Regions from separate parts of the Homo sapiens genome. Here regions 1, 2 and 4 are each linked to region 3. Evidence: fine-mapped expression QTL. A gene starts in region 3. Each other region holds a variant in brackets. All regions are shown on one strand. Distances are between the middles of the regions. Region 1 overlaps LOC105370534 (a long non-coding RNA gene). Region 2 overlaps CHURC1-FNTB (CHURC1-FNTB readthrough). Region 3 holds the start of RAB15 (RAB15, member RAS oncogene family). Region 4 overlaps LOC105370534 (a long non-coding RNA gene).

Evidence for each region. PIP is the estimated chance that this variant, and not a neighbour inherited with it, causes the effect.
Region 1: its variant is fine-mapped to the expression of RAB15 in whole blood (INTERVAL, PIP above 0.99).
Region 2: its variant is fine-mapped to the expression of RAB15 in whole blood (TOPMed, PIP 0.98).
Region 4: its variant is fine-mapped to the expression of RAB15 in naive CD8 T cells (Schmiedel 2018, PIP 0.95).

The regions. Positions count from the first base shown.
Region 1 is chr14:64,879,882-64,882,567 of GRCh38, reverse strand. It overlaps LOC105370534 (a long non-coding RNA gene), which reads left to right. Exons shown (of 3, transcript XR_943942.3): 3 at 1,180-1,687. SPTB (spectrin beta, erythrocytic) reads left to right here and starts at 2,661. Exons shown (of 36, transcript NM_001355436.2): 1 at 2,661-2,686. RefSeq lists silencers at 2,041-2,120, 2,191-2,330, 2,381-2,550. The variant T/G (reference allele first, on the strand shown) is at 1,544.
Region 2 is chr14:64,931,282-64,933,967 of GRCh38, reverse strand. All of the region lies in intron 3 of CHURC1-FNTB (CHURC1-FNTB readthrough), which reads right to left. It overlaps CHURC1 (churchill domain containing 1), which reads right to left. Exons shown (of 4, transcript NM_001386928.1): 4 at 1-1,830. The coding sequence ends at 1,738. Among named protein-coding and RNA genes, the nearest start is that of GPX2, 10 kb to the left of the region's middle. The variant T/C (reference allele first, on the strand shown) is at 1,395.
Region 3 is chr14:64,971,297-64,973,982 of GRCh38, reverse strand. It overlaps RAB15 (RAB15, member RAS oncogene family), which reads left to right and starts at 1,647. Exons shown (of 7, transcript NM_001308154.2): 1 at 1,647-2,030. The coding sequence starts at 1,907. The region is part of intron 3 of CHURC1-FNTB (CHURC1-FNTB readthrough); the gene reads right to left. RefSeq lists a silencer at 1,485-1,854.
Region 4 is chr14:64,889,647-64,892,332 of GRCh38, reverse strand. The region is part of intron 1 of LOC105370534 (a long non-coding RNA gene); the gene reads left to right. Among named protein-coding and RNA genes, the nearest start is that of SPTB, 11 kb to the right of the region's middle. The variant G/TG (reference allele first, on the strand shown) is at 1,585.

The DNA.
Region 1 (2,686 bases), 91 kb after region 3:
GTCCCTCCAGACGTGATCCCTATTGCCCACAATGATGACCTTGATAACGAACATATGTATGTGTTTCCTTCTCCCTTCTTTTTTTTTTTTTTTTTTTGAAACAGAGTCTTGCTTTGTCACCCAGGTGGGAGTGCAGTGGCGTGATCTTGGCTCACTGCAGCCTATGCCTCCCAGGTTCAAGTGATTCTCCTGCCTCAGCTTCCCAAGTAGCTGGGATTACAGGTGCGCACCACCACACCCAGCTAATTTTTGTGTTTTTAGTAGAGATAGGGTTTTGCCATGTTGGCCAGGCTTGTCTTGAACTCCTGACCTCAAGTGATCCGCCTGCCTCGGCCTCCCAAAGTACTGGGATTACAGGTGTGAGTCACCATGCCCAACCTTTCTCCCTTCTTTTATTCTCCCAATTTCTCATTCCTGGCCACAGAGATCTGTTCCCCTTTCCCTATTATTTGACAATGCCCTTTCCTCACTGCAAGCCTAAATTTCCTCTCTTCCTCAGTTCTGATTTATCATTTCACTGTAACTCTATTAGCTGTAAAGCATTTGGGGATGCTGTCAGGATAACATGCTCTGTAGCAAATGAGGTTGTATTGAATTATTTAGCTTTCAGCTAAAGTGGAGATAACTAAAGCAGCTGAGCTGGTTTGTAAAATGTTGGGGTAATCTGTCTGCTGATTTGGAGTTTTATCATATTAATTTTTTCTTATGGTTGAAAATTATAAATTTTAAGGCTACAAAGAAAAATATGTATGCAACTATTCAGTTCAGTGCCACAGACCTATAGCTAAGGAATTATCTGGCTTGCATAGTATATAATTACGTAGCTGCAGAACCACCATTCTAGAGAACCATGAATTTATCTAATAAGTTTATTCATACAAGCTTTTAAAAAACCATAAATACATAATTTCCCTCCATTTTTTTCTAACAAAAATAGATGAAGGATTTCTTCTTGAGATATATAATAGTCTCAGCTTTTGAAGTTGGCCTGTTTTTCTTGAGCTTTCCTTGCCAGAATTTGACTTTTAAACATTTTTTTTCACAAAACAGAACTTTCTCTTTTTAACTCAGTAATAGAAAAATGCATTCTTAAATGTTGTCAACAAAGGGGAGGAGGGGATCACTGCGAATCTATCGATGACCATGAATGTTTTTGTATCCTCTTTCCCATATTACTAGTGTCTCTTGGAAAATTGAGCTGTAATAAGGATCCAGCCAAGAGGAGGGTGGAGTGAAGAATTCTGTGGCTCTGTAATACCTGGGGCGTTTGTCCCACTCAGCACATCTCAGTGTCTAAATACCCACCCTCAAGAAGTGGGACTGCAGCAGGAAGTGAAGTATCTTTGCATATGTTCAATATATAAACTAAACTCGAACATCTGGCAAACACCCCTTTCCTGGGTGAATTCTGGAAAACAGCACAATTATAATCCCAAGCAAATAACTCAGGAGTAAGACTGTTCCCTTGTTAAGAACACCAGGCAGCATCAGTAAAAGTTAAAACTTCTTCTGCATCTATGCGCTTTTAATCTCCACGGCCATT[T/G]CCATAATACCTGAGATTACCTGCGTTGATAGCTGGTGAGAAATCATCCCAGGCACCGCAGGTGGAGAAAAGAGATGAAAGCTACCTCAAGGCGTACACGTAAACCTTACTGAACAATGACCTTGATCGTTAGAAAGTCAAGAAAATGTACTGCCTTGCAAGCTGCCGGTGTTCTATTGAGTTTCTCTCCGGGGGCAACTCGGAGATGCCTTTTTGGCACCATCGGTTCTAGTATTTCCTCTGGCCTGCTGCGCCGCGCCTCATCCAGGCTTGTAGTGAGGCACCCCCACTCGCCCGGAGACCCGGGCCGGCCAGGAGGTGCCAGTGGGCAGGTGTGGCAGCCTGCCTGTTGATTACAGTCCCTACAATGTGCGAGCTCCTTGGGACTGCAGGCTGCGCGCCGCCAGCTTTGCCTGGTTCGTCCTGATTACACTAGGTTTTCGGGCAGAAACAGCGACACTGAGCTCGGGCTGGGGGTGGGGCCCTCGGGCCCAGTGCCCGCCCCCTGCCCTCCCACCGCCAGCCGAGAGAAGCCCGCCCGGGAGCGCGCTTTCTAATGCACCAGCCCCCGGGAACAATCTGTCCCTCCCAAACCCGCCACGGCGGGGGTTCACCTCCCGGGTACCCGCCGCGCCCACCCTATGGCCTAAATGTCTTTTCATATATTTTAAAAACTGAACTGTGTGCAGTGGGGATGCAGGGCGGGAAAGGCTGGAGGGCTCATTTTCGCCACCAGGCTTGCCTCTCCGGGCGCACGAATTAGGCCCGAGCTAGAGTCCAACCCCCTTCCCGCCTCAGGGGGCTCGGGGTGGCGCGGGGTTAGGGGCAATGAACGACGATGGAGGCGCCCCAGGCTCAGCGGCGGGCGGGGAGGCAGAGGCGGGTTCCAGGAGCCGGGCTGAGGCCCGGCAGGTGCCCCCAGGCGCGGAGGCTGATTGGCAGGTGCGTGAGTGGGTGGGGAAGGCGGGGGCTGGGCTTGGCGCTGCGGGAGGCTGCGGCCCCGCCTCCCCGCCCCCGCCGCGGGACTATCTGGTCCCGGCAGCAGCGATGTCCCCCGGCAGGAATGTCCCTCCTCAGATAATGTTATTTATATCTCTGGGCGGGTCCGCGGCTCGGCAGCACCAGGCGCCCGGCGGCCGCTGT
Region 2 (2,686 bases), 40 kb after region 3:
TACAAATAACAAGCCATATCTGGTTATGGCTAAACTATCAATAGCACCTACCTTATGAATTTGTTAATGAGGATTAAATAAGTGCTTAAAAAGCTCTTAGCATGTAGTAAGTACTTAATAAAGCTCAGATATTATCATCATTACTGTTATTCAACAAAGCTTTTCCCTAGTATCTACAATGAACACTTTGCTCATTTCTTGTTCTTATAAGACCTTAGTTCAGAATTTCCAAATCTCCTAGATATGAAGAAACACTTTTGTTTCTAATGCCTGACCCTTTAAATTTAGGTCTCAGAATGAGCACTAATTGAAGCCACCTCATTGTTTCTAGTACTTTACATGCTTTCTAAAGTATCTTACATTCACTAATTCATTTAAATCTCCTAACAATACTGTGATGAATGTATTATATCAATTTTTGTTAGTCCAATTTGATAGAAACAGGACAATAAAGTCCAGAGTAATGCTTTGCTTAATGACTATACTGCTACTAAATGGCAGAGAGGCCTAAATGCCAGTTTATAACCTCCTGGCCAGTGCTCATGAAACTATGCAAAGTAAGATATTCTAAAATCCCTTTAAAGCCAATGAAACCATTTTCTCATTTATATTAACTGAAGTCCACACTGTATTCAGATTTCCCTAGTTTCTACCAAATGACCTTTTTTTCTTTTCGTGGTATATAATTCCATGTAGGATACCACATTACATCTAGCAGTCATGTCTTCTCAGGCTCCTCTTGGCTGTGACCATGTCTCAGATTTTCCTTGTTTTTTATGGCCTTGATAGTTTTGAGAAGTACTGGTTAGGTATTTTAAAGAATGCTTCTCAATTGGAATTTGTGTGATGTTTTTCTCCTGATCAGACTTGGGTTCTGAGTTCTGGGGAGGAGGACCACAGAGGTAAAGTGCCATTCTTATCACATTCTGTATGATGTGATGCTATCAAGGATACATGCTATCAAAAGGGCTTATCATGGATGATGTTAACCTCAATCACCTGGCTGAGCTGGTGTCTGTCAGATTTCTCCACTGTAAAGTTACTCTTTTCCCCCCTTTCCATATTATACTCTGCAAGGAAGTCACTATGCAGAGCCCACTAAGTGGGGAGTATCTACATAAATTATTTGAAATTCTTCTGCACAAGAGATTTGTTCCCATTCAATCATTTATATTAGTTTGGGCTTGTAAATATTTATTATATAGTTTGGGTTATAACCCAATACTACTTTATTTTGTTACTCAAATTGCTCCAGCTGTGGCCTTTCAGAGATCCTTCAGTTCGATCATGCTGACATACTCCCAATCACTATGATTTTTTTTTTTTAATTTCAGTACTTCATTTTTCTGTGGCACAAGATACTCTAGGCTCATCTTGTACAGTTCATATCCCAG[T/C]TCTAGAATCAGTTCATTTTCTAAGGAGTCCTGGTTCCTTTTATTGGAAACCAAAATCTGGGCACCAGGTGTGCTCCCATTCTAGTTGTTTTCTGACCACATAACTGCTAACAAAGATGCTTCACTCTGGCTACACTGATGTGAACTTTGAACTTTAGCAGAAGAGCTCAGCTCTAGAGAACAATGAGCTCCTACATTACCTTTTTTCCTCAAAGAATAAGTAAGTCTAAGCAGAAAAAAAATATGCAAAGAATTTTCAGTATGAATGAAATAAGACAAACCATCAGGCTTGCTGTATTGTAAACCAACACAATATAGTTATAACAGATCTGTAGAAGGATCCTTAGAATAAGAGAGTCATTTGTCGGGGGTCATCAGGGAGAATACTGATAGTATCTTCGGCTTTGCCGCATAACAGACACAGCATGGTATACTCCTAGAACAAGATAAAGTGCATAATTACCTAGAGGAACAGGGAAAAAGATGCTTTATAACTTACTCTAGTTAAGATGTTCTCTACAAATTGTCATGAATATTCTTTCTGTACATTGGATCAATTTCTTCAACATGTATCAGCAATGTCTTAGGCTTATTCTGTATATTCCAGAGCCTGTTGTTTATATAAATTGATACATAAATGTCATCTTGGAAATACATGGCTATTTCTCAGAAAGCACATATATTTAGCTTAGTGCTATTTAAAGTAATGAAGCAATTTGAGTGTGGGTCCCTATGGACAAATTCCTATTCTTACAGCTGTTCCTTTCTAGCATATTTAACACTAATACACAACAGAAACAATTTTTTGAAAGGAGAAAATTCCCAAACTGAAAAAGCTATTTTTATCTACCCTAGGAAAATAAACAATTATGTTAAATTCACTAGTATGTCCTGCCTCATTTTCAGATGGCTAGTTGTCTGGGAATTTGATCCATTTAAGAAGTTTGTTTCCCAGGCTTAATAAATGCCCAGATTGGTAATAGAGGAGATTTTGTTTTAGGCAAAAACCCTTAGGGCAAGGTCCTTTTTCTTTTTTTTTTTAGACACGGTATCACTGTGTTGCCCAGATTGGAGTGCAGTGGTGCAATGATGGTTCACTGCAGCCTTGACCTCCTGTGCTCAAGTGATCATCCCACCTCAGACCCCCAAGTAATTGAGATTACAAGCACTCGGCATCACGCCTGGCTAATTTTTAAATTTTTTGTAGAGATGGGGTCTCACTATGTTGCCCAGGGTGGCCTCAAACTCCTATGCTCAAGTGATCCTCCCACCTTGGCCTCCCAAAGTGACAG
Region 3 (2,686 bases):
ACTACATCAGTTCCTTTAGCTTTCTGTGTAATCAGAGTAGCTAGCAGGCTCGGGATTTCGCCCCCCGGCTTTTTTTTTTTTTTTTTTTTGAGACAGAGTTTTGCTCTTGTTGCCCAGGCTGGAGTGCAATGGCGCAATCTCGGCTCACCGCAACCTTCGCCTCTCAGGTTCAAGCAATTCTCCTGCCTCAGCCTCCCGAGTAGCTGGGATTACAGGCACCGGCCACCACGCCCAGCTAATTTTTTTATATTTTTAGTAGAGATGGGGTTTCACCATGTTGGCCAGGCTGGTCTTGAACTTTTCCCCTCTTATTATAATTCAGACACTTAACCTGAAATATACCTTTTCAAATGAAGTAAATGGGCTTACCACTTTCCTTGACCTACTATTGAAAAATACATTCTCCATCCAATATTCAGCCTGAAAACAGGTATGTACATATATACTTTTCATTGCTTTTTTTTTTTTTTTTTTGAGACAAGGTCTCCCTCTGTTGCGCAGGCTGGAGTGCAGTGTCATGATCTCGGCTCACTGCAGCCTTCCCCTAATGGGTTCAAGCAATCCTCCCACCTCAGCCTCTCAAGCCTGGGATTACAGGCGAGCCACCGTGCCCAGCTAATTTTTTTTTATTTTTAGTAGAGACTGGGTTTCACTACATTGGCCAGGCTGGTCTCCAGCTCCTGACCTCAAAGTGATCTGCCCGCCTCAGCCTCCCAAAGTACTGGGATTACAGGCATGAGCCAACGCGCCTAGCCTTTCATTGCTTTTTAAAGACCTAATAGGCTAGACTTTGCTCTCCCTCAATACTCGTTGGTAGGGATAGGCAATTTTCTCAACTCCGGAGAGCATTCATTTGCCTCTCTCCGGTGCTAACACATTCAGTGGTAGGAAACTGGATCTTGAACAAGGGCCATTCATTCTTTGGTGCCACTGGCTATACCACAGAGAAATTTAGGGGTCTGAAACAATACATTGGTCACCTGGGCACCTATCCTAAGCACCTTAGAGGGAAAACGGAGACTTGCCCGCACACCTCTAAAGGATTTTGCACTTGGAGATGTTCTTATGGCCATCTATCTTTTCACCCTGGTGGAGGCCGTGAATAGGCATTTTCCCCATTTAAAGAAAAAATGGGGACGGGGGAGGGCCGTGACACAGTCACACAGGTAAGGGGCAGCCAGATGGCAGGGAGGGGGAATTCCACCCACACTCTCGGGGACTCATGGAGACGGGTGTTCGAATCCAGATCCTGCTCAAGGCCTTCCTACCTCGGGTGAGCCCAGCTGAGGTACCAGCCACTGGGGAGCCCGGCCAGATCCTGCAGATGCAGGGTGCCACGGCGGGCGGAATTACCGGCGCCAGACTTGGGGTGGGATATGGGGAGAAGTGGTGAGCCCGGAAAGCGGAGCACGGTAGAAGTGGGCTGGGTGGGGGCTCACCTCAACTCCCCCATTCGGAGCGTCCGCGGAAAAACGAAAACGTTCCCCCGCCCCGGGCAGGAAGGGGTTGGGAGGGGGGGCTGGCGCCCCGCCCCAGCGTCGCCTGCTCGATGGGGTCCCGCTCTCCTGCGCGCGCTCCCCGCCCCCTCTCTCCGGGGCGGCGGCGGCGGCGCAGGGGAAGGGGCGGGCAGGGGCCGCCGCCGGTTTCTCCTCCCACCGCCTCGCGCCAGCCCAGCCGAGCCGAGCCGAGCCGAGCGGGCGCCGCGCCGGGCTCCCGCCGCAGCCGCGCTTCCCGGCACCCAGCGAGCGAGTGGGCAGGCGGGCGGGCGAGGCAGCCGCGGGGGCCGGGCCCGGCGTCCTCCTCGCCGCCCGCAGCGTCCCCGGGCGGGCGCGGGCCGCGATGGCAGCGGCGGAGCAGGGCTGAGCCCGCTGCCCGCCCGCAGTTCCCGGCCCCGCTGGCCCCAGTCATGGCGAAGCAGTACGATGTGCTGTTCCGGCTGCTGCTGATCGGGGACTCCGGGGTGGGCAAGACCTGCCTGCTGTGCCGCTTCACCGACAACGAGTTCCACTCCTCGCACATCTCCACCATCGGTAAGGGGCGGTGGCCCGGGGCGCCCCTCCCTCCCCGCCCGCGGCCCCTTTCCCCGCCGCCCCCGTCCCCAGCTGGGGAGGAATTGCCAGCCCCTCCGGCTGGAGGCGGTGGCGCCGGAGGCCGGAGTCCGGGATAAATCTCGGGGTGAGCATAGGTTTTGGCAGGTGAGGGTGTCCCTGCTGCCTGCCGTCCGGACCAGGGGTGGGGTCTCCCGCCTCTTGCCGGGAAGCCTTCCGTCCCATCAAACCGAGAAACCGGGGGTGAGGGGAGCTGGTGTAGGCCTGGGTACCCCGAGCTGGGGTAGCAAGAATCGTAGCCGCTGGAATAACATCCCCACACCCCCAGGGGGAGGGGAAGTAAAGCTTCTGCTACGGAAAAGGGGGTCAGGGTGGAGACCGGAGTCACTGAGGCGCCCTTGGTTCTGTGGTGACCCAAGGTGGAGCCGGCGGGGGGCGAGGGGGGGAAGAGAGGACGTACGGAGGGGCCACAGGGATCGAGTTTCCAGGGCAGAGTTGGGAAGGTAAGCCGCAAGGTGGGACACCTGGGGGAGGACACAGATAGGGTGAGGAGCCCCTGCGCCTGGGAAGAGGAGACATCTGTTCTGAGGGAGGCTAAAGAGGATGGAGGAGTGTCAGGAATACCTGCCCAGACCAAG
Region 4 (2,686 bases), 82 kb after region 3:
AGGATTCCCAGACATAATTAGGAGTATAGTCTAATCTGGACTGTGAAATCAAATAGCTAAGTGAACCACAACAGACTATTCAATCTGATGTTCTAAGCAACCGTTCTTAACCTTAGTTGCACATTGAAATCAACTGGGGAGCTTACAAAAATTCATGATTGGGTCCCATCCTGAGAGATTCTGATTTACTGGTGTAGGATGCAGCATAGACAGTGGGGATTTTTAAAAGCTAATATAGCAGTAGGCAAAGATGAGAATCCACAATCTAAGGTAGTCAGCACGACTAACACAATCAGCTTCAATCAATGAAGCTGAAACAGTGTCATAATACTGTCATAAGACAGCAGAGGGCAGAGTTGGCTCACATTTACATAGAGATAAACCATCTTACATAGGAAATAGTAAGTAGTTAATGTAATTTTAACTTTGTACTTTGTGGTTGTCTTTTGCCATAAAGCTTTCCTTCACTGTTAAGGCAAAATTACTTTTTGTACATTGGAAATTACTGGGAAGCCCCTGGGGGGCAGCTGATCAATAAGGTCATTGTATAATTTATTGTCCAAACCAGTACATTTTTGAGAGTGCCAAGGGAGCACTATTAACGATTATGCCAGGATAACAGGTGCAAACCTGTTTTGCGCAAACTGGAACATATGGTCACCATGTCTTATGTGGGATCCAGGAGATGAGCTAGAATCTGTAACATAGCTTTATTCATTAAAGCAACTAGTAGAAACTATGTACTTATGCTGTGTACTTATGCGTATTAAAATCTTCAGCATTATTTTTGCGTATGCCCTATCCACCTATCATTGTTTAGTATCATACTAGGGATCTTGGGCAATAGAAGAGAAACTTTTTAAAGTATCAAGCATTATACAATTTAGTTGGGAAGAGAAGACTGATACAGAACTTTGTTCTGGTAAATAAATCACAAGAACACCTTCAAAAATCCCTTCAGTAAGCAGAATATAACAAGTAAAATAAATAATGAGTTAGTGAGAGATAAACTGTAAATTATGTGCATGCTGTTCTTGACTTGTTGTGGCTCCACTTAGAGTTTCTGGTCATGGTCCTTGCATGCCTCCAGCACTTCCAGTAGGCAGAGACCAGTTGACTTCCTGAGCTGCTCTGAGTCTAAACCTCAGAAATTCTCTTCCTTGTGAGCATAGCTTCTCTATTCTCATAGCTTCTCTATTCTCTATTTTCATAGCTTCTCTATGCACTCGCTAACTCCTTAGTTAACCTCTATAGCCATTGATTCCCAAATTGAGTCAAGGAATTTGAGTATGAAAGGTATGATACAAATGGCAAAAAGCAAATAATATACTACTAACAATCATTTAAGTCAGCAACAGGAAGATTCCTCAAGTAGAGAAGTTTAGATCCCGTTTGGACACTCAGATCGCCCATCCCACATAGAGATCCAGATCCCCATACTGGGTGTTGCAACTACGCCACACACTTTTTGACTGATAACAACCACAGTAGTGACCTGTCTTTATGATTTCCCACAAGATTTTTTTTTTCTACCAATTTTCAACTTCAAAACTTATTCACTATTTTGCTTTTTTTTTTTTTTTT[G/TG]AGCTAGAGTCTCACTCCTTCGCCCAGGCTGGAGTGCAGTGGCACGATCTCGGCTTACTGCAACCTCTGCATCCTGGGTTCAAGTGATTCTCCCACCTCAGCCAGGATTATAGGCACACACCACCACGTATTTTATTTTGTATTTTTAGTAGAGATGTAGAGACAGGGTTTCACCATGTTGGCCAGGCTGGTCTTGAACTCCTGACCTCAAGTGATCTACCACCTTGGCTTCCTGAAGTGCTAGGATTACAGGTGTGAGCCACTGCACCCAGGCCACCATTTTGCATGTAAGAAGCTTATTCTCAGCTGTGTGCAGTGCCTCACACCTGTAGTCCTAGCTGCTTGGGAGGTTGAGATGGCAGGATTCCTTGAGCTCAAGAGTTTGAAACCAGCCTGGGTAACATAACAAGACTCTGTCTCTCAAGAAAAGAAAAGAAAAAAAAAAGCTTATTCTTCTTCTTTTGCTGACTTATCTTGTATGAATTCCCACTTGATAGTTAACCTATCTTATAATTTGTTCTGCATTTTTTGATGTTTATTTGAGTAATAAATATAGTTATCAAGGTTAATTAGGCAACCTTAGGAAACTCAAATAATTAAAGCACAATAGTAAAGAAAACAAAGTTATAAGATCAATCCTGTCATAAAATGGTTAGGGTTTGCTATGGTTTGAATGTGTTCCCCAAAGTTCATGTGTTGGAGACTTAATCCCCAATGCAGCAGTGTTGACAGGTGGTTTTTTTTTTTTTTTTTTTCGAGACAGAGTCTTACTCTGTTGCCCAGGTGGGAGTGCAGTGGTGTGATCTCGGCTTGCTGCAGCCTCGGCCTCCCAGGCTCAGGTGATCCTCCCACCCCAGCCTCCTGAGTAGCTGGGACTACAGGCATGTACAACCATGCCCAGCTAATTTTTAATTTTTTTTTGTAGAGACTGGGTTTTGCCATGTTCTCAAGGCTGGTTTTGAATTCCTGAGCTCAAACAATCCGTCCAGACAGGTGGGATCTTGAGGGAGTTATTAGGTCATGAGGGCTCTGCCCCCATAAATGCATTCATGTTATTATCTTAGGAGGGCATTCATTATCAGGAGAGTGGGTTTGATAAGAA